Regions from separate parts of the Homo sapiens genome. Here regions 1, 2, 3, 4 and 6 are each reported to be linked to region 5. The links are microRNA targets in miRTarBase. Many come from high-throughput screens and were not tested one by one. Region 5 holds a microRNA gene; each other region holds the end of a gene's coding sequence.

Region 1 (3,000 bases), not on the chromosome of region 5:
CCAAAAGATATTTGGCATAGGAAAATCAAGTGTATCCTTTTTTGCTCAAAGAATTTCATTAAGATGGAATTGACATTCAAACCAGATGAGAGCATCTAGATTAGAAATACTTCTGTGCCATAAAAAAACTCATTCTAATTGTCTTTGATTTCTTTTTTTTTTTTTTCTAGTGTCAGATAGTGCCCCTCATCTTGAGGGCCTAGCAGAATTTCAAGAGAATGTAAGGAAGACCAACAATTTTTCAGCTTTTCTTGCCAATGTTCGGAAAGCTTTTACTGCCACGGTTTATAATTAACATACAAATAGTGTATATAAAAACGGTTTATTTTTCTTCTCTATTACATATCTCTTTTTTTCTTGTTTTTATTATTATTATACTTTAAGTTTTAGGGTACATGTGCACAATGTGCAGGTTTGTTACATATGTATACATGTGCCATATTGGTGTGCTGCACCCATTAACTCGTCATTTCATTAGGTATATCTCCTAATGCTATCCCTCCCCCCTCCCCCAACCCACAACAGTCCCCGTTGTGTGATGTTCCCCTTCCTGTGTCCATGTGTTCTCATTGTTCAATTCCCACCTAGGAGTGAGAATATGTGGTGTTTGGTTTTTTGTCCTTTCGATAGTTTGCTGAGAATGATGGTTTCCAGCTTCATCCATGTTCCTACAAAGGACATGAACTCATCCTTTTTTATGGCTGCATAGTATTCCATGGTGTATATGTGCCACATTTTCTTAATCCAGTCTATCATTGTTGGACATTTGGGTTGGTTCCAAGTCTTTGCTATTGTGAATAGTGCCGAAATAAACATACGTGTGCATGTGTCTTTATAGCAGCATGATTTATAATCCCTTGGGTATATACCCAATAATGGGAGGGCTGGGTCAAATGGTATTTCTAGTTCTAGGTCCCTGAGGAATCGCCACACCAACTTCCACAATGGTTGAACTAGTTTACAGTCCCACCAACAGTGTAAAAGTGTTCCTATTTCTCCACATCCTCTCCAGCACCTGTTGTTTTCTGACTTTTTAATGATTGCCATTCTAACTGGTGTGAGATGGTATCTCATTGTGGTTTTGATTTGCATTTCTCTGATGGCCAGTGATGATGAGCATTTTTTCATGTGATTTTGGCTGCATAAATGTCTTCTTTTGACAAGTGTCTGTTCATATCCTTCGCCCACTTTTTGATGGGGTTGTTTGTTTTTTTCTTGTAAATTTGTTTGAGTTCATTGTAGATTCTGGATATTAGCCCTTTGTCAGATGAGTAGGTTGCAAAAATTTTCTCCCATTCTGTAGGTTGCCTGTTCACTCTGATGGTGGTTTCTTTTGCTGTGCAGAAGCTCTTTAGTTTAATTAGATCCCATTTGTCAATTTCGGCTTTTGTTGACATTGCTTTTGGTGTTTTAGACATGAAATCCTTGCCCATGCCTATGTCCTGAATGGTATTGCCTAGGTTTTCTTCTAGGGTTTTTATGGTTTTAGGTCTAACATGTAAGTCTTTAATCCATCTTGAATTAATTTTTGTATAAGGTGTAAGGAAGGGATCCAGTTTCAGCTTTCTACATATGGCTAGCCAGTTTTCCCAGCACCATTTATTAAATAGGGAATCCTTTCCCCATTGCTTGTTTTTGTCAGGTTTGTCAAAGATCAGATGGTTGTAGATATGTGGGATTATTTCTGAGGGCTCTGTTCTGTTCCATTGGTCTATATCTCTGTTTTGGTACCAGTACCATGCTGTTTTGGTTACTGTAGCCTTGTAGGATAGTTTGAAGTCAGGTAGCGTGATGCCTCTGGCTTTGTTCTTTTGGCTTAGGATTGACTTGGCAATGCGGGCTCTTTTTTGGTTCCATATGAACTTTAAAGTAGTTTTTTCCAATTCTGTGAAGAAAGTCATTGGTAGCTTGATGGGGATGGCATTGAATCTATAAATTACCTTGGGCAACATGGCCATTTTCATGATATTGATTCTTCCTACCCAGGAGCATGGAATGTTCTTCCATTTCTTTGTGTCCTCTTTTATTTCACTGAGCAGTGGTTGTAGTTCTCCTTGAAGAGGTCCTTCACATCCCTTGTAAGTTGGATTCCTAGGTATTTTATTCTCTTTGAAGCAATTGTGAATGGGAGTTCACTCATGATTTGGCTCTCTGTTTGTCTGTTATTGGTGTATAAAAATGCTTGTGATTTTTGCACATTGATTTTGCATCCTGAGAGTTTGCTGAAGTTGCTTATCAGCTTAAGGAGATTTTGGGCTGAGACGATGGGGTTTTCTAGATATACAATCATGTCATCTGCAAACAGGGACAATTTGAGTTCCTCTTTTCCTAATTGAATGCCCTTTATTTCCTTCTTCTGCCTGATTGCCCTGGCCAGAACTTCCAACACTATGTTGAATAGGAGTGGTAGGAGAGGGCATCCCTGTCTTGTGCCGGTTTTCAAAGGGAATGCTTCCAGTTTTTGTCCATTCCATATGATATTGGCTGTGGGTTTGTCATAGATAGCTCTTATTATTTTGAGATACATCCCATCAATACCTAATTTATTGAGAGTTTTTAGCATGAAGGGTTGTTGAATTTTGTCAAAGGCCTTTTCCGCATCTATTGAGATAATTATGTGGTTTTTGTCTTTGGTTCTGTTTATATGCTGGATTACGTTTATTGATTTTCGTATGTTGAACCAGCCTTGCATCCCAGGGATGAAACCCACTTGATCATGGTGGATAAGCTTTTTGATGTGCTGCTGGATTCAGTTTGCCAGTATTTTATTGAGGATTTTTGCATCAATGTTCATCAAGGATATTGGTCTAAAATTCTCTTTTTTTGTTGTGTCTCTGCCAGGCTTTGGTATCAGGATGATGCTGGCCTCATAGAATGAGTTAGGGAGGATTCCCTCTTTTTCTATTGACTGGAATAGTTTCAGAAGGAATGGTACCAGCTCCTCCTTGTACCTCTGGTAGAATTCAGCTGTGAATCCATCTGGTCCTGGACTTTTTTTGG
Region 2 (5,112 bases), not on the chromosome of region 5:
CAGGAGCCATGGCTGAGGAGGCCTCAGGAAACTTACAATCATGGCAAAGGGTGAAGGGGAAGGAAGCACGTCCTCGCCTGGTGGCAGGAGAGAGAGGGAGAGGTGCTACACACTTTTAGACAAGCAGCAGTAGGAGGATGGTGCTAAGCCATTAGAAACTGCCCTCATGATCAAATATCCTCCCAGCAGGCTGCTCCTCCAACACTGGGAATTGCAATTTGACATGGGATTTCGGTGGGGACACAGAGCCAAACCATATCAATGAGTCAGTAGTATATTTCGTTATTTTTTTAAAGGATATGAAGAATGAATTTTGGTGTCATTTAATATTTTCTTCTTTCCTCTACTTTTGCCTTTTTTGGGTAAAAATCTAGTGTCTCTTTTAGCTTTTCTCCCTTCTTTTGCATGTAATACTGGGACTCATTTGGACAGTATCAGTCCTCCTGAGACTGTCAAGTATTGATTTAGTGACAGGTGTTTAGAATGATGTTGTCTACCACGCTTGATTTCTACAACTTAAGTCTGATGTTTCCTTTTCTGGAGTCAATCTTGCCACTCATCTTTAGTTCAACAAACTTTCCTTGAAGTTTATTTTGTGTCAAGTAGGTCAGAGTTCCTATGCTAGAGGTGAGTACCTCACTATCCAGAGGAGAAGGAAGACAACCTGATTTTTTGGTGTGTATTCTATCATAAAACATGAAAACTACAATATTTTAATGGATAGCACATTTTCTAAGTAATTTAAACCTTAATTAACCAAAACCCAACTAATTTTAAACTTAAGTAACCATGTTTTTATATTCTCAATTTTCATGAAAAAAAATCACACAAAAAGGAAACTGACTATTTTTAAGTAAAATATCAATTATAATTGTATATCACTTGCTTTCATGAAAGTATTCCAAATCATTAGGAATGATTAGGTAGTCTTTTTGTGTATCTGTTTCTAGAAATCTGTTTGTATTATATAGTTTTTCTATTAAGAACTTTTTAAGAAATCTCTTCTGGGGGCTTTTGTTTATTCTTAGTAGTTGGAACTAATGTAGTCTGACTAAAATACACATGGGTGTCTGCTCTGTGATGTTTAAACTTATCTGTTTTGTTTGTTTTTCATTTCAGGAAGCAGAAGTGCAAGCAAAGCAGCAAGCATGAACCTTAAGCACTGTGCTTTAAGCATCCTGAAAAATGAGTCTCCATTGCTTTTATAAAATAGCAGAATTAGCTTTGCTTCAAAAGAAATAGGCTTAATGTTGAAATAATAGATTAGTTGGGTTTTCACATGCAAACATTCAAAATGAATACAAAATTAAAATTTGAACATTATGGTGATTATGGTGAGGAGAATGGGATATTAACATAAAATTATATTAATAAGTAGATATCGTAGAAATAGTGTTGTTACCTGCCAAGCCATCCTGTATACACCAATGATTTTACAAAGAAAACACCCTTCCCTCCTTCTGCCATTACTATGGCAACTTAAGTGTATCTGCAGCTCTACATTAAAAAGGAGAAAGAGAAATAACCTGTCTCTCATTCCTAAGTTGCCTCATTAATTTTCATGAACAAGAATATGTACCTTTTTGATGCTATATTACTGCGATTAAAAAGTTCTTGCAGGTAATGTTTATGATATGTTAAACGTTGTAATTTCCTATCGTAATTATAACATTCCCATTCTTTTGTAGATGAAACTTCTACATATTGAACCACAGATTTTCTGAGCTTCTAAATGTAGCCTTTCATTGCACATTTCAGTGATCAGAATAGATATCCTTTTACACGCACAAAAGCAATAGATTCATTCAGTGGACAAGTTCCTTGTTTAACTACACAGCTATGATGGAATGATATATCCAAGTTCCTTGCCTCAGTGAAATATGCATATGTATATCATGAAAGTGGGATGCCAAGTAAGCTTAAAATGGCATTCTCTAGCAAAGAGATTAGACTTTTAAATAACTCTTATAAAACAGGTTGGCGATCATTTCCCAAGATTGGTTTCCCTTGAGTTTTTGCTAAAACAAATCTTAGTAGTTTTGCCCGTTTAAAACAACTCACAATCGTAAATGCTACTATTCCTAAGATATCTTACCTTTTTATTTCAGTTTAGCCATGTATTGTATGAGTGTATTAGTCTAAGCAGTGAGAATCTTTTCTATGCCTCTATTCCAGCAAAAAGTAGAAGTATCAAATAAAAAGGGCAACTTTTAAAATATTAAGCCTGAAGACTTCTAAAAAGACAAGAAACATGGCCTAAATAACCAACATAGATTTACATAGTAAGTTTCACACTACCTTATTACCAAAAGCAAACACCTCTTACTTTAAACTACATTATCATGTATATCTATTGTATGCTGGTCTTTACTTTTTGCCAAAATCAACATATAATGAAGAGATGCCTTTGTTTCATGAGATTCAAACTTGATGCTATGCTTTAAAATAAACTCAGTACTTTTAGAAACATAACTTATGTGTTCTTGGAGTTTATATAATAGTAATTTTAGATGAGTAATATCTTTTTTTAGAGGGTTGGGAATGCAAAAAGAGAAAATAGTAGAAAGAAAAAGCTTTGAATGCAATTCAAGGTTTTCGTTTTCTATGTTTTCTTTTTAGGGCTTTTAATCTCACAATACACATGAGGTCAAATGAACAATTTTATTGGGTTTACAAAAATACGGCATAAAGAACTCTAGAGAAAACAGGGTGCTTTGTAATACACTGGAAACGCAAAAAAAGTTTTTTAGTCAATATTTTCTCCTAAGCTTTATTAAATGTTGCTGATGATACTTGCAATATTTTATGTGGTCATTTTCACTTTTATTTTAATGTCAAATAAGTTAACACTGCCAAAATGGGCATTCTTTAAAAATAGATGTATTTTTTGCCATGTTTATATAACTTAAAATTAACATAGTATATTAAAGTAAAAGGTTGAATTGAGTCTTCCTAAACTGAAATATTTTATTTTGTCAGCTGAGAAATATGTTTTGTAGATACAAAAATGCAAGTGAAATTCTGAATATGAAGGTGAGTTTTATTTAAAAAAATCTCCAAAATATTTGGCCGGAAAATATAATCTTTGCCACTTGTTATATTACATTCAGATTGTTTCTGTTTGTAAATCAGACTTGTTTATTTGTTATGTTCAGTTATTGAGCTGGTTTGTTCTTGGGAATATTTGACTCTCAGGAAGATTTTCATTTTCACCAAACAATGCAAATTGGACGTCGATTGCATTGTTAAATGTCAACATTTCTTTGGGAGTCTGAGTGTAGGGGTAAACAGAATTTTAAAACAGAAGTTGTTAATTACTTGCTTGGGAAAGTTTAAATACAGAAAATGTTGGTGAAGTCAGATTTCATTGCACATATTCCATTCATTCAGCAAAAGGAAAAATGAGGATTCACATGGATTTTATTACCCAGTTGTGGATGCTGAAAAATATTGAAAGGTTGACATTGGTCTAATCTTTTTAATGTAAAATACATATTTCTTTTCTTTTGAAGAATTCCAACAAAACTGATTAAGAAACATGCACATTTGATTAATTTGAACCTTCTAGTCTTCTGCTTCCACCCATCATTCTTCCCCTGTATCTATTATCACCTTCCTTTATTTAGCAAACAAAATTTTGAAATCCTTTGTAAAGAGTACTATAATGTTACCATAATTCCTATTTTCACACAATTGTCTTTTTAACATCTTTACTGAGATATACAATTCACATACTGTAAACTTTGCTCATTTAAAGTGTATAAGGCAGTGACTTTTACTATATTCACAGAATCATGCAACCATCACTAAGATTTAAGTTTAGAATGTTTCATCACCCAACAAATAAACTCTACCCAATAGCAGTCACTCCCCATCCCCCACTCCCTCAGCACTATGCAAACACCAACTTACTTTCTGTCTCTGTGGATTTACCTATTCTAGACATTTTATATAACTAAAGTCATACAATATGTGGTCTTTTGTGGTTTGTGTCTTCTAGTTACCACATTTTTGAGTTTCATCCATGTTGTAGCATGCATTAGTACTTCACATGTTTTATTGAATAACATTCCATTGTATGGATAAAAGCACATTATGTTTGCCCATTAATCAGTTGATGGACATTTGGGTGGTTTCCACTTTTTGGCTGTTACGCATAATGCTGCTATGAACATCGGTGTACAAATTTTTTGTTGGAATACCTGTTTTTGTGTCTTGGATATATATGTAGAAGAGTTACATGATTGTTCTGTATTTAACAATTTGAGGAACGTGAGACTTTTCCAAGTTGGCTTCACTATTTTACATTCCCACCAACAATGTATGAGTATTGTTCTGATTTTCCCAATTTCTGGCCAGTGCTTGTTGTTATTTACACTTTTGATTACAGCCATTCTGATGGCTATAAAGTGGTTCCTCATTGTAGTTGTGATTTACATTTCTCTGATGGCTAAATATGTTGAGCATCTTTTTATGTGATTATAGCCATTTATATATCTTCTTTGGAGAAATGTCTTTTCAGATCCTGTGTCCATCTTTAAATTGGGTTATTTGTATTTTTATTGCTCAATTTTAACATTTCCTTATATATTCTGATTACAAGTCTGTTATTATATATGTGGTTTGAAAATGTTTTACCATTATATGGGTCGTCTTATTTTCTTGAGGGTATGCTTTGAAGTATGTAAGTTTTAAATTTTGGCAAATTCATCTTTTTTTTTGTTATTGCTTATATTTTGTTTTTGCTAAGGAAACATTGCCTAATCCAAGGTCATAAAGATTTACTTTTCTGTTTTCATTTAATAGTTTTACCTTGAGCACTTACGTCTGTGATCTATTTTGAGTTACTTTTTGTATATGATATGGGATAGGGATTTAAGTTCATTCAGTTGTCCAAGCACCATTTGCTGAAATGACCACTCTTTCCCCATTAAATTTTCCTGGCAGCTTTGTCAAAAATAAGATAATCATACATAAATATGTAGTTATATATTTGTTAATTTAATGATTTTAACAAATTATAATTGCATACAACTAGAAGTAGTGTGATGCTATTTTATATAATATATATTATATATGTGTATATATGCACAGTGGGAAATGATTTAATCA
Region 3 (5,112 bases), not on the chromosome of region 5:
ATACTGCAGCACCTTCCACCCACCCTTTGGTCGCTTGAACTGCCCTTCTTTGGTTCTTTTTCCGCTTTCAGATCTTTCTTGAAGTGTAGTAAGCAGAACTGTACTGGGTATTCCAGCTGCAGTTTGGTCTTAAATAAAAGAAGGATGTTTGTCAGTTTGGTTTCCTTTATTCTTCTCTGTGGTATACAGGATTTTGTTAGTTGAACTGGATGTAGCAGCTTACTGGGCCAAATTTTCAAGAGAATAATACAATAGTTCCCAGGTCTTTCCCCTGGGATGTAACTTAACAGCTCATACTCTATGTAGCACCTTTCCTCTCTCACTGAAGCATTATCTCTCATTTTTCTTCTTGCTTACTTGGCTTCAAAAAAAAAAAAAAAATGCAGAGAGATCTTAAGTAAAAGGAGAGGTGAAGTGTGTCAGCCCTCATTTGAGTGTTGATATAACCATTCTATTTATCATTGAGCCCAGTCATACACAGTAGGTAAACTCAGTAAGTGGGGGACTCAACTACATCACCCAAAACTAACATAAAACACTACGTAAAGATCCTCATCAAGTATCAGTAGGATCCAAACTACCATGGGTTCAACTGTAATATAGTCCTTTTGAAGCTGTTAGGTGTGTCGCTTTAGGAACAACATATAAGATTCTCAATAGTCCAAGTCTAAAAATAAGTTGACACAAGTAAAAATAAAAATGAAATTAGGCCTTCTAGTTCTATACAGAAAATGAACAATTTCAATGAGCTATCTCCTCAATCTACTTCTCTCAAATTATAGTCTGTAAAACAAACAAAACCCCCCCAAAACTAAGGGACCAGGCCTGGGCTTAAATCCTGGCTCTGCCTTACAGTCTTTTCTTTGTGCCTCAGTTTCCTTATCTGTGATATGGGGAAAATAAAAGTATCTTTCTCATAAGGTTTTGTGAAGAGTGAGTTAACACATAGCCTTTTCAAGTGTCTGGCACATCATGAATACTTAATAAATTAGCTATAATTGTCATAAAGTAGATAGAATTCAAACCACAAAATACCTAACCTACTTCCCCAAAGAGGTTATCACTTAATATTAGTTGCTCATCAACATTCAATTTAAAATGATTTAAAATCATGTCATAAACGTTAAGCCCTAATGCGTCTTGTTTATAAGAGGGAGAGCAGAATTACTGATCCATCCAATAATGAAAATATAAACTTGGAATTAGCTGATCCAAATTTCATCTTAACACTACCAAATAACCTCTTAAGTTAGTTAACCCAAGAGGCTTAATGAGCAATCATGAAACAACTTTGATATTACACAATGAATTTTTAACTACTGTGTAAAAGATGTACCTTTCTGGCAAGTTCTATCATTTCCAAAGTAAAAGTTAGTTGTGCCTAGTGCAACAATGATTTAAAATATTCCTAAATCTATAAAGGACTGTTTCCATTGTTATTTTAGAATCATATTCAATACTGTAATAATTCCAGTTAATCATTATTTCCTTCATTTTGTTTTTATTATAGCATGTTTGCTTAATTTACAGCAAGCAGAAAATAAGCTGGGTCTTGTTTTGATCCAAACATTGATGTTTTAAAGGTTGTACACAATATTTGTTAAAAAGAACATATAAAAATACCTTTTTAGAAGCCTCTATAAGAAAGAAAATACAAAGTTTAACCCCACAACTTTCCTCTTTGCTAGAACTGTAAACTACTGCTACAGTTTTAAATAGACTTTTTGTTGTTTAAACTATACATCCAGGAAAATCTAAAAAAATTAAAGAAACGTGCATATAAACGATTGCATAGCAGAACATGAACATTAACTGCAAACAGTAAAGAAATGAAAGTTAGAAATACTATCAAATATACAAAGGTTCTAGAATCAATCCTTTAAACACATTCCACAAACAGTATTTAAAATCCATCGTTGTATTCTTTACAGGCAAAGCCTAGATTACTAAAACCGAAATTGAAAAAAGTAATCCTCTAAAAGGAATCGTTTGTCCATAATTCGTACTTGTATCTGTAAGCAAGCAATCTGAGATTTTTAAAGATGCTAGCTTTTTATTCTGAAATGAAATTGGACATGTCAAGTCACTTTTGTCCCCAAAACGATCTTTCAGAGAAATACTAGAAATTATAAATGGTTTAAGGGTATTACTTCATTTTTAGTCAGGTACTACACTGATAATCGAAAGCTCAAAAGATGTGACTCTTGCTTAAAACTGACTAATCCTTTTCCCCAAATTACCTTAAATTTCATGGCACCACAGAATCACCTAGAATGAGTGTTGTCTTACAACTTGCCTCGTATTAAATAAACTGAGGTGTGAAAAGCAGGCCTCCCTCATAAAGAGGCAGGCAAATTTTGATACAAATGCACGAGCCAAGTGCTGTAAGCATCAAAATTTCAGTTCTTTTACACTAGGCACACACACACAAAACCTACTTTGAAACAATTTACTTACTTAACAGCAGTAAGAAAACTAAGCAATATTATGGTCAACAACGCTCCTTAAACTTTAGAATAACTACATAAGAATATTCCTTTTTCCTTAAAATTATTTTTGCCATCAACGACCTGCTCAAATTTTAAGGTGAGTTTTTGTGTTTTCTATGTTCCAAATCTTCATAGGAACCAGAAAAAAAGCAGTGAAGGCTCCATGTTTCAGTCAAAAACTCAATTTCCCAGCTGGCATCATTCCCCAAGACAGTGGGGTTAACAAAAGAACTAATCCACACTGCATCAAAAATAATTATCATTGGCCTAGACATCCGGTTTTTTTTTTTTTTTGAGACGGAGTCTCACTCTGTTGCCCAGGCTGGAGTGCAGTGGCGTGATTTTGGCTCACTGCAACTTCTACCTCCCAGGTTCAAGCGATTCTCTTGCCTCAGCCTCCTGAGTAGCTGAGATTACAGGCATGTGCCACCATGCCCGGATAATTTTTGTATTTTTAGTAGAGACGGGGTTTCACCGTGTTGGTCAGGCTGGTCTCGAACTCCTGACCTCGTGATCCGCCCGCCTCGGCCTCCCAAAGTGCTGGGATTACAGGTGTGAGCCACCACGCCCAGCCGGGCCTAGACATCTTGACAAGACATAAAGGTCCACCCTGAACCTAAATGTGTCTGAGCAGTCAGTGTTGTACTGTGGCTACTACTTCACTTTTGTATCATTCTATCTTATTAGCAAGCTACATTTCTAGGTTAACAGTTCTACCAAATATGAATATGAAAGTTTATTTTTAATGAGACAATGTTGCAAATTATGGTCAACCAACATCTTTTCACCAAATACTTCAAGCATAAAAAATGAGAATCTTTACAAAAATATACAGAGACACCACAAATTGGTAGCTGCCCATAACATTAAACAAACTGGACTCTTAAGAGTGGCTTCTCAACAGCATATCATTTTAATTATAACCATTGCCTGGTACAGGGAAAACTAACAAGTGTTTTTTAAGCATCATTGCAACATTGTATTCCTGATAATTTAAGTAAACCAAACTATGAGTAAATGAATGATACATGCCTAAAAATGACCATGGTTTATACTATCAGTGGCCACTGGACTTAGGACTAGTCCAAGACCTTGATCTAGATTTTGACCTAGACCTAGACTGTGATCTTGACTGAGATTTGGATCTAGGTGGTTCTTTTTTCCTTGATTCCTTTTCATATCTTGAGCCAGACTTATAATGTGTTTTGGAATCTGTTTTAGAGGTGCCTCTAGTTTTGGTGTGAGATGCAGACCTAGAACGTGATTTAGCCTTCATTTCTTTCTTGGGCTGGGACTTGGACCGTGATCTTGAATTGGATTTAGATCTTGAAAAAGATCGATTTCGGTGTTTGAATCTTTCAAAACAGAGGAGAGATATAATTAGAGTAAAAATTAGATTCTATATTAATCAAATTTGTTATTTTTAGAGCAAAAGTTCACTCTGAAATTAAAAAATACATGAGTCTTTTTCAAAGCAAAGTTATTTACCTATCATTGTCGGAATGGCTTCTGCTACGCCGTGGTCTTCCAGTCGGTCTACTGCTAAAAAGCATATCAGAAAAAGCAGTGACAAATATCTATTCATAGAGGCAAAGTTTCTAATTAAAAGCAAACCATAAAACTTTTAAAATAAAATGCTACAGTATTTTTTGTCTCAATGAAACATTCAATGTATATAATTAAAAGTATACAAAATAGTAAAAAAAAATTAAATGCTAACAAATACATTTTTTAAACAGATCACTGTGCTACACAGCACACTTACTTTCTAGGACTATACGATCTTCTATAGTTGTAATCAAAAGACCGACTTCTTGATCTCCTCCTTTCATAACTTCGGCTTCTAGAACGTCTGTATCTGTCATAATCATCATAGCGTGAAGAACTGTACACATTCCTCCCTTCCTTGGCTTTCATCTGATTTGGTGCTAGGAAATACAAAGAACAGAAATATTTAAAAATATTAAAAACAGTATTAAAGCCCTCAATAAATAGGGAAAAAAATCCCTGCATCCCCTCTTATATCCCAAAGAGAGTATGTATGACCCGGGTGGTGGCTCACACCTGTGATCCCACTACTTTGGGAGGTTGAGGTGGGAGGATCACTTGAGCCCAGGAGTTTGAGACCAGCCTGGGGCAACATAGCAATATGCCATTTCTACAAAAAATAATTAGCTGGGCCTAGTGGCTTGCACATGTATTCCAGCTACCCAGGAGGCTAAGGGGGGAAATCACTTGAGCTCATGAGTTGGTGGCTGCAGTAAATTGTGATCACACCACCGCACGCCAGCCTGGGGGTCAGAGACCCTGTCTCCAAAAAAAAAAAGTGTGTATGTGTTTTGGTGTCTTTTTTTTTTAATTATTTTAATTTTTGAGACCAGGGTCTTGCTCTGTTACCCAGGCTGGAATGCAGTGGCGCAATCTCAACTCACTGCAACCTCCACCCCACACCAGTTGAAGCCATTCTCCTGCCTCAGCCTCCTGAGGAGCTGAGATTACAGGCACGCGCCACCACACCCGGCTAATTTTTGTATTTTAGTAGAGACAGGGTTTCACCATATTGGCCAGGCTGGTCTCGAATTCCTGACCTCAAATAATCCACCCGCCTCGGCCTCCCGAAGTG
Region 4 (5,112 bases), not on the chromosome of region 5:
ACTGTGCTTGCAGTTCATTGACAGGGCCACTAGCCCGCGGGATGAGGATGACACCAAGGCAGACAGCTGGAAGGAACTGAGCCTGCTCAAGGCCACACCACACCTGCAGCCCCGGCCTCCACCTGCTGCCCTTAGCCAGCCAGTGTTGCCCTTGGCCCCCTCGTCGTCTGCCCCAGGTGAGTGGCACTCCTTCCCCTCTTTTGGTGTCACATTCAAGAGACGCAGCCCAGGCTTTGCCCTGACTGACTGTGTGACCCTGCGCGAGTCCCTGCTTCTCTCTCGGTTGTGGGCTCCTCAGATATTTAATGGGGGTGGTGTTTCTTTGCCCTGTTCCTGGAGCAAGGTGGTAGCGTTGTGATGGTGGGGAGCTTTAGATGGGGAAACTGAGGTCCAGAGGGGCGTGACATACCTACCTACTCTGCATGAAGCTGTTGTCGCCAGGGTGTTGGACTCTGGGGCAATGAGAACTCGTCACCAAGAGCTCACTATATGTGAGGATCTGAACTGAGTGCCTTCTCAGGTGCCACTGCAGGTGAGAAAAGTGAGGCCCTGGGACATCACACAGCTAGTTCTCGGTGGCGTTTTCTTAACTAATCACAGGCTGTTCCGACATGTTCCCCGCCCCTTCACTCTGCAGAAGGGCCTGCAGAAACTGATCCTGAGGTGACACCACAGCTCAGCTCCCCAGCACCGCTGTGTCTGACACTGCAGGAGAGGCTGCTGGCCTTCGAGCGGGACCGTGTGACCATCCCAGCAGCCCAGGTGGCTTTGGCCAAACAGCTGGCTGGCGACATCGCCCTGGAGCTGCAGGCCTACTTTCGGAGCAAGTTCCCGGAACTGCCCTTTGGGGCATTCGTGCCTGGGGGGCCGCTCTACGACGGGCTGCAGGCGGGGGCTGCGGACCATGTGCGTCTCCTGGTGCCACTGGTGCTGGAGCCGGGCCTGTGGAGCCTGGTGCCGGGCGTGGACACTGTGGCGAGGGACCCTCGCTGCTGGGCCGTGCGCAGGACGCAGCTTGAGTTCTGCCCCCGTGGGAGCAGCCCCTGGGACCGCTTCCTGGTCGGGGGCTACCTCTCCTCCCGCGTCCTGCTGGAGCTACTCCGCAAGGCGCTGGCTGCTTCTGTCAACTGGCCGGCCATTGGCAGCCTTCTCGGGTGCCTGATCCGGCCCAGCATGGCCTCGGAGGAGCTGCTGCTCGAGGTGCAGCACGAACGCCTGGAGCTCACTGTGGCTGTGCTTGTGGCAGTCCCTGGGGTCGATGCTGACGACCGCCTCCTCTTGGCCTGGCCCCTGGAGGGGCTGGCGGGGAACCTCTGGCTGCAGGACCTGTATCCAGTGGAGGCTGCTAGGCTGCGAGCCCTGGACGACCATGACGCTGGGACTCGCCGGCGGCTGCTGCTGCTGCTGTGTGCTGTCTGCCGTGGTTGCTCGGCTCTGGGGCAGCTAGGCCGGGGTCACCTGACCCAGGTGGTCCTGCGTCTGGGGGAGGACAACGTGGATTGGACGGAGGAGGCCTTGGGTGAGCGCTTCCTGCAAGCCCTGGAGCTGCTCATCGGCAGCCTGGAGCAGGCCAGCCTGCCCTGCCACTTCAACCCCAGCGTGAACCTCTTCAGCAGCTTGCGTGAGGAGGAGATTGACGACATTGGCTATGCGCTATACAGTGGCCTACAGGAGCCCGAGGGGCTGCTCTAGGTGGGTGGAAACGGGTGGTTGCCATGTTTTCTAATGCTGGGGAGCTGCACCCACCTCCCTTCCAGGGATTTGAATAGTGGTTTTTCTCTAGCTTTTTGCCAGAACAAAGGAGGGTACATTACTTAAACCCAGGGCATCAGGATGTGCTTGGGCTATGGTGGCCATAAACCCTGAGCCCAGAGAGCTTGGGTCACTGTCACCTGAGTGCAGCTGGGCTGCCTCAGGCAGCTTGGAGTGCCAGCCATTCCTGCAAGCACCGTTTCAGCTCTTGGGGCCAACCCCAGGACCTTTGGCTCTGTCCATCACCAGCAACCAATCCACCAACAGAATGTGGTTTCTGCCATCCTGGGCAGAAGCTGAAGGCCAGCTTCACATTTCTGCTGAGAGAAGGTGACTTAACGCCTTTTCCGGCCCTAGCTCCAGGCGTTTTGAGGCGTCTGGTGCCTGATGGTAGGTATGGTGTGTTTGTTCTGTCCCCCAGGGGCTGGAGTCACCTGGTGCCCCTGAAGGACAGATTTTTGGCTGTTAAAGGATGGCATTTTCCTGCTGTCTTCTGTGCGTTTAGTTTTCTTGCTGAGCGGGAGCTCAGTATGACTTGCCACCCACCTGATACCTCAGGGCAAGGCCCTTTTTCCCTCCAGCCAGGTGAGTGTTTTCTTCAGGCAGCTGAGGGTCCTGGGGGAGCTGAGGCTCTGTGCTGCACCCCCAGCCCACAGCTGGGGCATCTCACTGGAGCTGTTCCAGGCCCCACTGGAGAGCAGAGGACCTGATCCCCCACTAGAGAGGTCCGGTGTGCACAGCCGGCCTCCCAGTGTGCCAAAATGAACTGCTCTCAGCTGATGGCTGTATTCTGACTTTGAAGCCTGTTAAGAGGTAGCAAGGGGGCTAGAGGAGGGAGATTCCACCTCCCCTCCCAAGTGACCCTCCTCCTGCCTCTGGTATCCTTCCTTTTGAAACGAAGCTCAGCTTCGAAGATGTGAACAAGAATAAAAGGAAAAAATTCTAATGTATATATAACTCAGGCTGGATAAGGGAGTCTTGGTGCTTTCATACGCAGCTGTTGAGGGTTTTCTGTAAGTCCTGTGGCTTGTCCTGGCACTTTGGCAAGAGTGCTTGAGGTCAATTGGAGGTGGTAGAGTTTACTTTAAAAAGTAGCATCTTGGCCGGGTGTGGTGGCTCGCATCTGTAATCCCAGCACATCGGGAGGCCGAGGCGGGCGGATCACGAGGTCAAGAGATCGAGACCATCCTGACCAACATGATGAAACCCCAACTCTACTAAAAAGACAAAAATTAGCTGGGCGTGGTGGCACGCACCTATAGTCCCAGCTACTCGGGAGGCCGAGGCAGGAGAATTGCTTGAACCCGGGAGGTAGAGGTTGCAATGAGCTGAAATTGCACCACTGCACTCCAGACTGGCGACAGAGCAAGACTCTGTCTCAAAAAAATAAATAAATAAGCATCTTGGCCCCGCGCTGTGGCTCACGCCTATAATCCCAGCACTTTGGGAAGCCGAGGCCGGTAGATCACCTGAGGTTGGGAATTCAAGACCAGGCTGACCAACGTGGAGAAACTCCATCTCTGGTAAAAATTCAAAAAAATTAGCTGGGCATGGTGGCACATGCCTGTAATCCCAGCTACTTGGGAGGCTGAGGCAGGAGAATTGCTTGAACCCGGGAGGCGGAGGTTGTGGTGAGCTGAGATCGTGCCAGTGCACTCCAGCCTAGGCAACAAGAGTGAAACTCTGTCTCAAAATAAAATAAAATAAAATAATAATAGTAATAATAAATTAGCATCTCAGTCTGTTTGGGCTGTGATAACAAAATGCCATAGACTAGGTGGCTTATAAACATCAGAAATTTATGTCTTACCATTTTGGAGGCTAGAAATCCAAGAGTGAGTCACAGATTCCATGTTTGGTTGAGAGCCCACATCCTGGTTCATAGGTGTCCCCATCTAGCTGTCCTCATGTGGAGGAAGGGGGGAAATGCTCTCCTAGGGTCTCTTATAAGGAAACTAAGCCCACCCATGGGGTGGGGGCCCACATTCATGATCGAATCACTTCCCAAAGACCCCATCTCCTGTTAGCAGTGCCTTGGGGGTTAGGATTTCAGCATACAAGTTGAAGGGGACACAGACTTTCTGTCCGTGACAAGTAAGGTAAGTGGAAGGAAAAGATGAAAAGCTTGGTGTTGCTTTAGTAATGGGAACCAGCCAGTTTGGGATGTTTCTTCCCGCAAGGCTGAACTGCTGAGCCCTGCACCATACTTTCTGTAATTAGTGGGCTGTTGACAGCCCTTCAGCCATGCTCATCATTTTTTAGAAACCTGTGTTTTTTTTCTTTTGAGAGTGAGTATCACTCTGTCGCCCAGGCTGGAGTGCAGTGGTGCGATCTCGGCTCACTGCAACCTCTGCCTCCCGGGTTAAAGCAATTCTTCTGCCTCAGCCTCCCGAGTAGCTGGGACTACAAGTGCGCGCTACCACGCTCGGCTAATTTTTGTATTTTTAGTAGAGATGGATTTTCACCATGTTGGCCAGGATGGTCTTGATCTCTTGACCTTGTGATCTGCCTGCCTTGGCCTCCCAAAGTGCTGGGATTACAGGCATGGGCCACCGCACCCGGCCAGAAATGTGTGTTCTCTACCTCCCTTGCACCTCTTTGTGGCTGCACAAGTGGGGAGGAAACTTGCCCCGCCTTGTGCAGGTGAGAGGCCAGGGCATCTTAACCCTCTCACCCGCAAGAGCCAAAGCCAGGGCTCACTTCCTATCACCAGATGACACATGTGGGCTGGGGAGGGCTCTGGTCTGCGTGCAGGGCTGCTTCCAGCCTAGCTGTGCCACTCGCACCCTGCTGGTCCTTCCCCGACTTACGTCCTGAGGGGACTCCCCTACCCCTTCCAGCTGTGACTGCAGGACCCAAGGGAAGCAGGACTGTGCCAAGCAAATGGAATAGTGGTGTAGGCCTCTAGGTGTTGGGTGTAGGGCAAGAGGCGGGCACGAGGGCTCCTTGTAGAGGATATTATAAGGGTCCAAGGTGGGAGACACTTGGCTGAGGTCCATTCCAATCACTTGGCTGAGGTCCATTCCAATCACTTGATGCCTTGATGCTGGAGAGCTTTGAGCAGTTTCCTTGGCGGTGTTGGGGCAGCAAGGGAACAGTCTGGGGCAGAGCCTGTGCCTCAGTCTTCTCATCTCTTAACTGGGGAGGGTCATGTAATACCCAACCCCAGGTGCTTGTGACGATTAACTGGGGTGGGCAGTGCTTAACATAATGCCTGGGAACGAGGACTGGTGGGCCTAGCTGTGCCCCACCCTCCAGCCACATCCAAGCCCCAGCACAGCAAGGTGCTCCCAGATGCCACTCCAGCCCCTGGTCAGAGCGCAGCTGTCCAGGAAGCAAGCTCAGTCTAGAGTGCCACTC
Region 5 (3,000 bases):
TTGCTTATTGATCCCTAAATCTTCTGGTGAGTCTCCCATGGATCATATGACTGCAAAAACTAGACTTACTTGGTTTTAAGTTGGTAAGCTGAGGAAAGCCTTATTGAAACATGAGTAGTAATATTTTAAGTTTTATTCTAAAAGAATTATTTTAGAGATTGAAAAATTATGAAGAACTTTCATGAAAGGAAAACATTAAGGAATAGTATTAAAGGAGCATTACAAGAAGGTATATTTGAAAAGGTGTCATAAATGACCTAGGAAATAAAGATGATTATGTAGTTCAGGAAAATTCCTGTGGTAATAAGCTGCTATTCAGCCAAGTTAAACTCAGTTTACTACGTTGTTTTTTAATCTTTTTAAAAATTTTGAGATTGAAGAAATGCTTGAAAATGCTGAACGGGAACGTCTGGGTAATTCTCACCAGCCAGAGAAGCCTCTTGTACGACTGCGAGTAAGTCCTATTTATATAGATTGAATATTATTAATTTTCAAAGCATAGTAATGTACAGTTTACATGGTTTCTTTGAAAAGTAGTGAGGAGAGTGCTCATAGTAATAAGAAGAGCAATCACCATCGGAGGCAAAAACAAAGATATAAGGATTTGAGTTAATCACAGTTTAAGTGATAGGTTTGGTAACTTATTTTTCTCATTTTCTAAATAATTTGTTGTTATATTTAATAGATTGGCTGAGCTCTCTGGCTTCATCTTTAACTACCTCCTCTACTCACTTCATTCCAGGCATCTTGGCCTTCTCGCAGTTTCTTGGGCATGTGGGATGTGCTCTTATCTCCCTTTAGTCTGCTCCCGTGTCACCTCACTGCAGCCCTATCATCAAGATTGCAGCCCCTACCTTCTCTCCAGTGCCCTGATTTCACTTACCTTCTTCTGCTTCCTCTTTTCTTCTTATTTTTTTCCCCGTAACACATCCTTCTAATCTATGTACGGTTTATTTGTTTTGGTTATTATTAGGATTGTTTCCTGTGCCTATAAATCTGCTTATCCTTTCTATCGTGTTATAAACAAAGAAACAACAACAGACTTCTTCTTTACCACTATGCTTTTCCCTTTTCCAAACTCCTACCCCATGTTGCTTACTCTCTTTAAAAGCCCCTAAAAGTATATAACCTATATCTCTCTTAACTTTCTCTTCTTCAGTTCACTATAACCAAGGCTCTGACTTCACCATAACCAGTGGAAAAGATGACCTTTAATTGTTCAATCCAATAGATCGTGTCTCATCTTGCTGAATTACTCTTGGGCATTCTCTGAGTTATTTGTATCCGTCCCGTCTCATAGTTAGCCCTCTTTTCAGTGTAGGCATACAGCTTTAATGACCACCAATAGAGTGATGACTTCAAAATCTTTACGTAGACCTCCTTCTTGTTCTGTATCTCCAGGAGTCCCCTGAGGCCTGGTACTGAGGAGTGTAGTCTTTAAACCAGCAGTGTTGTTGTTGCCTGGGAAATTGTTAAAAATGCAGAGCCTCAGACCCTGCATCAGAACCCACTGTATTTTAACAAAAATCTCCAAGAAATGTATATGTTCATGAAAATTTGAGAAGTACTGGGATGTAGACTGTGGAGGTAAAGAGTACAGTGTAGAGCCAGACTTCCTGAGCTTCATTCTGGCCCAACCACTAGTTGTATGACCTTGAGCAACCGCATCCCTTATCCCTTGGTTTGTATTAGGTTGGTGCAAAAGTATTTGCGGGTTTTGTCGTAGAAAGTAATGGCAAAAACTGCAGTTACTTGTGCACCAACCAAATGCTTCGTAGATTTATGAGATCTAAATGGATTAAATAGTGTCTGTTGCACAGTAGGTAATCTGTTCCCGTTTCTTTATCCCACTGTCGCTGGCATAGTGAAGCCCTTATTAATACTTCCTGGCCTATTGCTGCAGCCTCCTACCAGGACTCTGCCTCCAGTTTCCTTCTCTCTCCACACTAATGCCAAAATGATCTTTGTAAAACACAGTTTTGCATGTCTTTTCTGCTAAAAATAACTTAATTATTCCCCAGCACTAACAGGAAAAAGTCTAAACTTTTTTAGGTTAGCATTCAGGGGTCTACATGATGTGGTCTAAACCAAAAAAGCTGCCGTCCCCTGGGTGCAGTGGAGTTTATTTCACTGGAACCTTTGTCCATGTTGATCCTGTTGCGTGGGACATACTTCTCTCCTCCTTTCTCTATACCTTCTTCAGCACCCACCTAAAGCCTCTGTCTTCAAAGAAGCCTTTCTTGACCTGCCCACAGAGAACATGCTTCTTCCTTTGTGTCCTCATCCAACTTTGTACATACCTCTTATAGCACCACTCACAGTCTGCTTCCAGTGATCTGTTTACATGTTTTTCTTCCCAGTCAGTTTGTGAATTTCTTGACAGCCAAGATTGTATTTATTTATGGTTGTATCCCTGGCCCTGAACAGCATACTTAGAACATTGAGGACATCCAATAAAATTTGTTATGACCAAACATTTATAAATGAGAAGTTTGAAGGAGAGACCTAATAGCTTTAGCATTTAGTATTTTGTCTTTTATAACATGGTAGCTGTAGAGATGATCTGGGTAAGGCTGGGCATGGTGGCTCACGCCTGTAATCCCAGCACTTTGGGAGGCCGAAGTGGCTGAATCATCTGACGTCAGGAGTTCGAGACCAGCCTGGGCAACATGGCAAAACCCTGTCTCTACTAAAAATAAAAAAATTAGCCAGGTATGGTGGTGCATGCCTGTAATCCCAACTACTTGGGAGGCTGAAGCGTGAGAATCGCTTGAACCCGGGAGGCAGAGGTTGCAGTGAGCTGAGATTGTGCCTCTGCATTCCAGCCTGGGTGACAGTGAGACGCCATCTCAAAAAAAAAAAAAAAAAAAAGAGAGAGAGAGAGATGGTCTGGGTAATACAAAAATAATTACTTTAAGGGAATCACATAGTTCTCTTCATTATGGCAAAAGATCCCAATTTTCTCATCTGTGTCTGCCTCACAGCATTAAAACTAACCAG
Region 6 (5,112 bases), not on the chromosome of region 5:
CGTGAGCCACTGCGCCCGGCCATTTCTTCAAATTGTTTTTTATACCTCCCTTCTCCACGGACTCCAATTATACACGTATTTGGCTCCCAAAGTTGTCCCATAGTTCTCTAATGCCCAATTTCTCCTACCTTCTTCAGTCTTTTTCCTGTTTAAGTTGCTGTCTTCCAATTCTTTCATATCTTTTTCTGAGATGTCCAATCTGCTGTTAATCCCATTCAGCGTTTTTCATCAGATATTGCAGTTTTCATCTCTAGAGGTTCAACTTGGTGTTTTGTATCTTCCATGTTTTTCTCTCTAGCTTTCTGAACATATGGAATACAGTCATAATACCTGCTTTAATGTCCTTGTCTACTGATTGTCATTGTGCCATTCCTGGGTCAGTTTTGATGGACTAATTTTTCACTTCATTATGAGCTTATGTTCATGCTTCTTTGCATGCCTAGTATTTTTGTTTTTGTTTTTGTTTTTTTTGAGATGGAGTTTCGCTCTTGTTGCCCAGGCTGGAGTGCAATGGCATGTTCTTGGCTCACCACAACCTCCACCTCCCTGGTTCAAGCGATTCTCCTGCCTCAGCCTCCCAAGTAGCTGGGATTACAGGCATGTGTCACCACGCCTGGCTAATTTTTTTGTATTTTTAGTAGAGATGGGGTTTCTCCATGTGGGTCAAGCTGGTCTCAAACTCCTGACCTCAGGTGATCCGCCTGCCTCGGGCCTCCCAAAGTGCTGGGATTACAGGCGTGAGCCACCGCGCCTGGCTGCCTAGTGATTTATTAGATGCCAAGTATTGTATATTTTACTTTATTGGGTATATTTTTTGTATTCCTATATTCTTGAGCTTTGTTCTGGAACACAATTAAGTTACTTTGAAACAGTTGTGTTCCAGTTTGGTCTTGTTTTTAAGCTTTCTGAGTTGGGACCAGGGGTAGTTTTTATGTAGAGTTAATTTTTCTACTACTAGGGCATCTTAGTTCTCTTCCAATGCCACCTAGATTACAAGGTTTTCCACTGTGACTGTTGATAACAGGCACTATTTTCCACTCCAAACACTGTTCCCTCTAATTCTTTTGGGTGAGTTTCCTCACCGGCATGCACTATTAGTGTGTAACTAAATATCTGATGGAAACTCTCTGCAGATCTTAGTTCTCCTGCTGTGCAACTCTCTCCTCCAAGGCATTCTCCCCTGTGAACTCTAGTCATTTCGACTGCCCAACTGCACCTCAACTCCAGGAGACCGCCAGGTCCTGATGGGGTAACCCTTCCTAGAACCACGGACTCTCCGCAGATAGTAAGTACAGATAATTTTGTTTCCCCTCTCCAAAGGATCATTGTCTTTTATTGCTTAAAGTTCATTGTCTTTATATTTGTTAGGTACTTAAGAAGGAAAACTAACAGGACAGATAAGTTTTAGGAAATAACTACCTTACTCTAGCAAAATACCACACACAAAAAAAGGGGACCCACCCACACCAGACAACGTCACAGGCTGAAAACTTTCACCATCCAGCCTAACATGGCCTGCTCCCTATCCCACGGTGCCATTAGGGTGCTCCTCCTACTTCCAGCAGAAAGGCCTCAGCAGAGGTCCCGAGGACAGCGACAGGAGGAAACCTGGATCTCCATCCTCACCAGGCAGTAACGAGGCAGTGCCCCATCCCATACCAGCACCGTCAGAGGAAGCATGCTGAGAGATTTAAATAACTCCCAGAGCTTCATAACAGTGAAGATGACCAGGATACAGCCAAAGTCACTCATCATAACAAGAACTAGGACATTGTAAACTTGAATGAGAAAAAACCTCAAGGGATGTCAACACTAAGATGACACAGATGTTGAAACTTTATGACAATTTTTTTTTTTTTTTTGGAGACAAGGTCTCACTCTGCCACCCAGGCTGGAGTGGCATGAACAAGGCTCACTGCAGCCTCAACCTCCTGCAATCAAATGATCCTCCCACTTCAGCCTCCTATGTAGCTGGGACTACAGGCATACACCACCATGTGTGTCTAACTTTTAAATTTACTTTTACTTTTTGTAGAGATGAGGTCTCACTTTGTTGCCTAGGCTGATCTCAAACTCCTGGGCTGAAGCAATCCTCCTGCCTCACCTTCACAAAGTGCTGGGGTTATAGGCGTGAGCCACCACACCTACCTGATGACAAAGATTTTAAAGCAGCCACCATAAAAATGCTTCAGTGAGCAATTATAAACACTCTTGAAGCCATTTAAAGAAAAAAAAAGTCTCAGCAAATAGCCTCAGCAAATAAAGAGAAGACATAAAAAATAAACCAAATGGAAATTTTAACTGAAATATACAATGACAGTCAAAGTTAAAGTACTGCATGGATGGTTCAAGAGCAGAATGGAAAGGAAAGAGTAAATAACCAGTTATTCTGAAGATAAAACAATAGAAATTACCTAAACTGAGCAACACAGAGAAAACAGACTGGAAAAAAAATAAACAGCGCCTCAGGGACTCACGGGACAATAGTAAAAGATTCAACATTTTGGTCATCAGTGTCCCAGAAAGAGGATGTGGGTGGGGCAGAAAGAGTATGCAAAGAAATAAAAATATATATATTCCACAGAATGGGTAAAAACTTCTGTAAAGCATGTATGATAGGGGGGCTTATATCTAGAAACTATAAGGAACTCAATAATAATAAAAAATAACTTTTTAAATGGGCAAAGGCTCTGAATAGACATTTCTCCAAAAAACATATACAAATGGCCAATCAGCACATGAAAAGATGTTCAACATCATCAGCCATCAGGGAAATACAAGTCAAAATTGCAATGGTATACAATTAATATACCATTTAACATTCCCAATAGTAGCCTACAACTTCCATTTCCACTGTGGAAAACGGTTTGGAAGTTCCTCACGGTAGTCAAGTTACTTAACTGCTCTGTAAAATGAAGTTAATCACATTCACTTTGGATGAATGAGTTCATATATATTAGCTATAATTACTACAGCAATTATCATTGTGTACATTATTACTGATTGGGTCAAATTATTAACCCCGTCTCCCTAATTCATTTACTTTTGTTACTTTGGATGAATATTTAAAGTAGTCTTGAACTGAGATATGTATGTAAAGGTTCTATCACATTGGCATATAACATGTGCTCAACAAATGAAAGCTATAATTATTTATTTCCAAAGAGTTTAAAGATTAAACTTCCCTCAAAACAAACAAAAGGCAAGGTAACATCCCAAGCTGTGAGGGGCTGAGTCTCTCCTAGGTGCAGGGCAGCACAGGAACTGGCTGCACAAGGCCAGAGAGGTTACGTGGCGGCTCTCTTCAAATTAGACCACACAGAGCGCTTCATTCCCTGTGCAGTCTTCACATCTTCCCAGTCCAGTTTGACGTCTGGAACCTCATCTTCTGGCTCTGGATCCTTCCTCAAGGGCCCCCGGGGGGACGCAACCACAATGGGCAGAGGGCCACATTCCTCCCGGATTTCCACAACATGGAGGCCCTTCTTATCAGCCAGCTGTTGATGGGTTTCCTAAGCAAGACCAAATTCAGAACAGGTTAGGTCTGAAGTACATTTGCAACATAAAGAGCAGGAACTTCCACAGGCCACAACAGTACAGCCTGGGGGTATTCAAAGGCCATTTCAGTGGATTTGGGTTAATGTGTTTTGTGGCTAAACTCTAATAACCTGTCATGGGTGGAGTCATTTCAGCCTCATCTGCTGCATCTGCCCACCCCAAACTTGGATAGAGGAAGGGCCTTGGCCTCTGGTCTCTTGCCTTCTAAACCCTCCTGATTATGCACCATGCTGTGCCAAACACTGAACTTGAATCTCACCAACCCCCTAGATCTAACTACCAATTTACAGTAAATATAGGGGAGATAAGACACTAAGGACCCTACAGGTATTTTAGTCAGCAACAGGCCAGGAAGCACTACAAAACAAACAACCTGGTTTCCTCAACAAAAAATCATAAGCGGGGCGGGGGTGGGGGAAGAGGAGGGGAACCTATTTAAAAGGCATAGCAAAAACATACATTAACCTGTTCTGCAACCTGATTCAAACACATTGTGTAAAAAAAAAAAAAATTTTTTTTAATCTAACAAATGGAATTTGCTCATTTGTATGAACATTGATTGGATATTTGATGATACAAGTTACTGTTAACTTTTTAGGTATGATAATAGTATTACAGGGTATTTTTTAAAATCCTCATCTTTTCGAAGATACATACTAAAATATTTAGGGTTGAAATAAAATGTCTGAGATTTGGTTCAAAATAACTGGGGGTGTACTAAGAAGCAAGACTGGTCATGAGCTGGGTAACAGGGCCATGGGGATTCACTGCAGAGGGAAGCCACAGAGATCTGGAAGCAGGCAGATTAGTTCAGTAGACGTTATTCATGGTACAATGACATACCTGCTATGTCAATCCCGTGATCCCAGGCCTTATGGCTGCCTTGCACTATTCTAATTATATATCTAATGCCCTGCAGTATGTGTGAAATTAGAAAACAGATGAGCCATTTCATAAACAAAATAATTTATATTGGTGTATCTTTCAATCAAAGGCATATCACCTAAAGTGGTGGCATCTTTTCCTTTTTGAGTGACATATTAAATAATGCAACCTTTTATAGCTGATGGCATTTTAGGAGAGATGACATATGGTAACTATATCAGAAGGTTTAAAAGACTAAAAGAAAACAAAGATATCACATAAAAGAACAAGTCTAGGCTGGGCGCGGTGGCTCACGCCTGTAATCCCAGCACTTTGGGAGGCCAAGGCGGGTGGATCACGAGGTCAGGAGTTCAAGACCAGCCTGACCAACATGGTGAAACCCCATCTCTATTAAAAATACAAAAATTAGCCGGGCATGGTGGCACGTGCCTGTAGTCCCAGCTACTCAGGAGGCTGAGGCAGGAGAATCGCTTGAACCCGTGAGGCGGAGGTTGCAGTGAGCTGAGATGGAGCCACTGCACTCCAAGCCTTGGTGACAGAGCAAGACTCTGTCTCAAAAAGCAAAAACAAACAAACCAAAAACCAAAAACAGAACAAGTCTACTGGATCATAAATACAACCTATCTAAAATCAACATCTTAATTAAACCTCTAATGTTTCAATTTACAA

Evidence for each region. Region 5 holds the annotated microRNA hsa-miR-548l (AAAAGUAUUUGCGGGUUUUGUC, at 1,701-1,722, shown strand). A microRNA usually pairs through its seed, bases 2 to 8, with sites in the 3' UTR of a target mRNA and lowers its output. Matches are read on the target gene's strand: a 7mer-m8 pairs with bases 2 to 8, a 7mer-A1 pairs with bases 2 to 7 and ends in A, and an 8mer does both.
Region 1: the mRNA of SPC25 is a reported target of hsa-miR-548l. Seed matches in the 3' UTR shown: 8mer at 375-382.
Region 2: the mRNA of SH3BGRL is a reported target of hsa-miR-548l. Seed matches in the 3' UTR shown: 7mer-A1 at 2,324-2,330.
Region 3: miRTarBase lists SRSF10 as a target of hsa-miR-548l. Seed matches in the 3' UTR shown: 7mer-A1 at 1,005-1,011 and 7mer-m8 at 903-909.
Region 4: the mRNA of MIEF2 is a reported target of hsa-miR-548l. Seed matches in the 3' UTR shown: 7mer-A1 at 2,833-2,839.
Region 6: the mRNA of MRPS5 is a reported target of hsa-miR-548l. Seed matches in the 3' UTR shown: 7mer-A1 at 3,067-3,073 and 7mer-A1 at 2,328-2,334.

Annotation. Positions count from the first base shown.
Region 1 is chr2:168,868,726-168,871,725 of GRCh38, reverse strand. It overlaps SPC25 (SPC25 component of NDC80 kinetochore complex), which reads left to right. Exons shown (of 7, transcript NM_020675.4): 7 at 171-835. The coding sequence ends at 295. Among named protein-coding and RNA genes, the nearest start is that of SPC25, 20 kb to the left of the region's middle.
Region 2 is chrX:81,296,076-81,301,187 of GRCh38, forward strand. SH3BGRL (SH3 domain binding glutamate rich protein like) reads left to right here. Exons shown (of 4, transcript NM_003022.3): 4 at 1,120-2,472. The coding sequence ends at 1,152. Among named protein-coding and RNA genes, the nearest start is that of SH3BGRL, 97 kb to the left of the region's middle.
Region 3 is chr1:23,967,596-23,972,707 of GRCh38, forward strand. It overlaps SRSF10 (serine and arginine rich splicing factor 10), which reads right to left. Exons shown (of 6, transcript NM_054016.4): 4 at 4,255-4,417; 5 at 3,978-4,031; 6 at 1-3,844. The coding sequence ends at 3,547. Among named protein-coding and RNA genes, the nearest start is that of SRSF10, 10 kb to the right of the region's middle.
Region 4 is chr17:18,263,073-18,268,184 of GRCh38, forward strand. MIEF2 (mitochondrial elongation factor 2) reads left to right here. Exons shown (of 4, transcript NM_139162.4): 3 at 14-176; 4 at 638-3,480. The coding sequence ends at 1,692. Among named protein-coding and RNA genes, the nearest start is that of MIEF2, 5.0 kb to the left of the region's middle. RefSeq lists an enhancer at 4,231-4,824.
Region 5 is chr11:94,465,267-94,468,266 of GRCh38, reverse strand. It overlaps MIR548L (microRNA 548l), which reads left to right and starts at 1,687; the gene lies at 1,687-1,772. It overlaps MRE11 (MRE11 double strand break repair nuclease), which reads left to right. Exons shown (of 20, transcript NM_005591.4): 10 at 374-454.
Region 6 is chr2:95,084,070-95,089,181 of GRCh38, forward strand. MRPS5 (mitochondrial ribosomal protein S5) reads right to left here. Exons shown (of 12, transcript NM_031902.5): 12 at 1,300-3,512. The coding sequence ends at 3,288. Among named protein-coding and RNA genes, the nearest start is that of MRPS5, 35 kb to the right of the region's middle. RefSeq lists an enhancer at 3,384-3,949.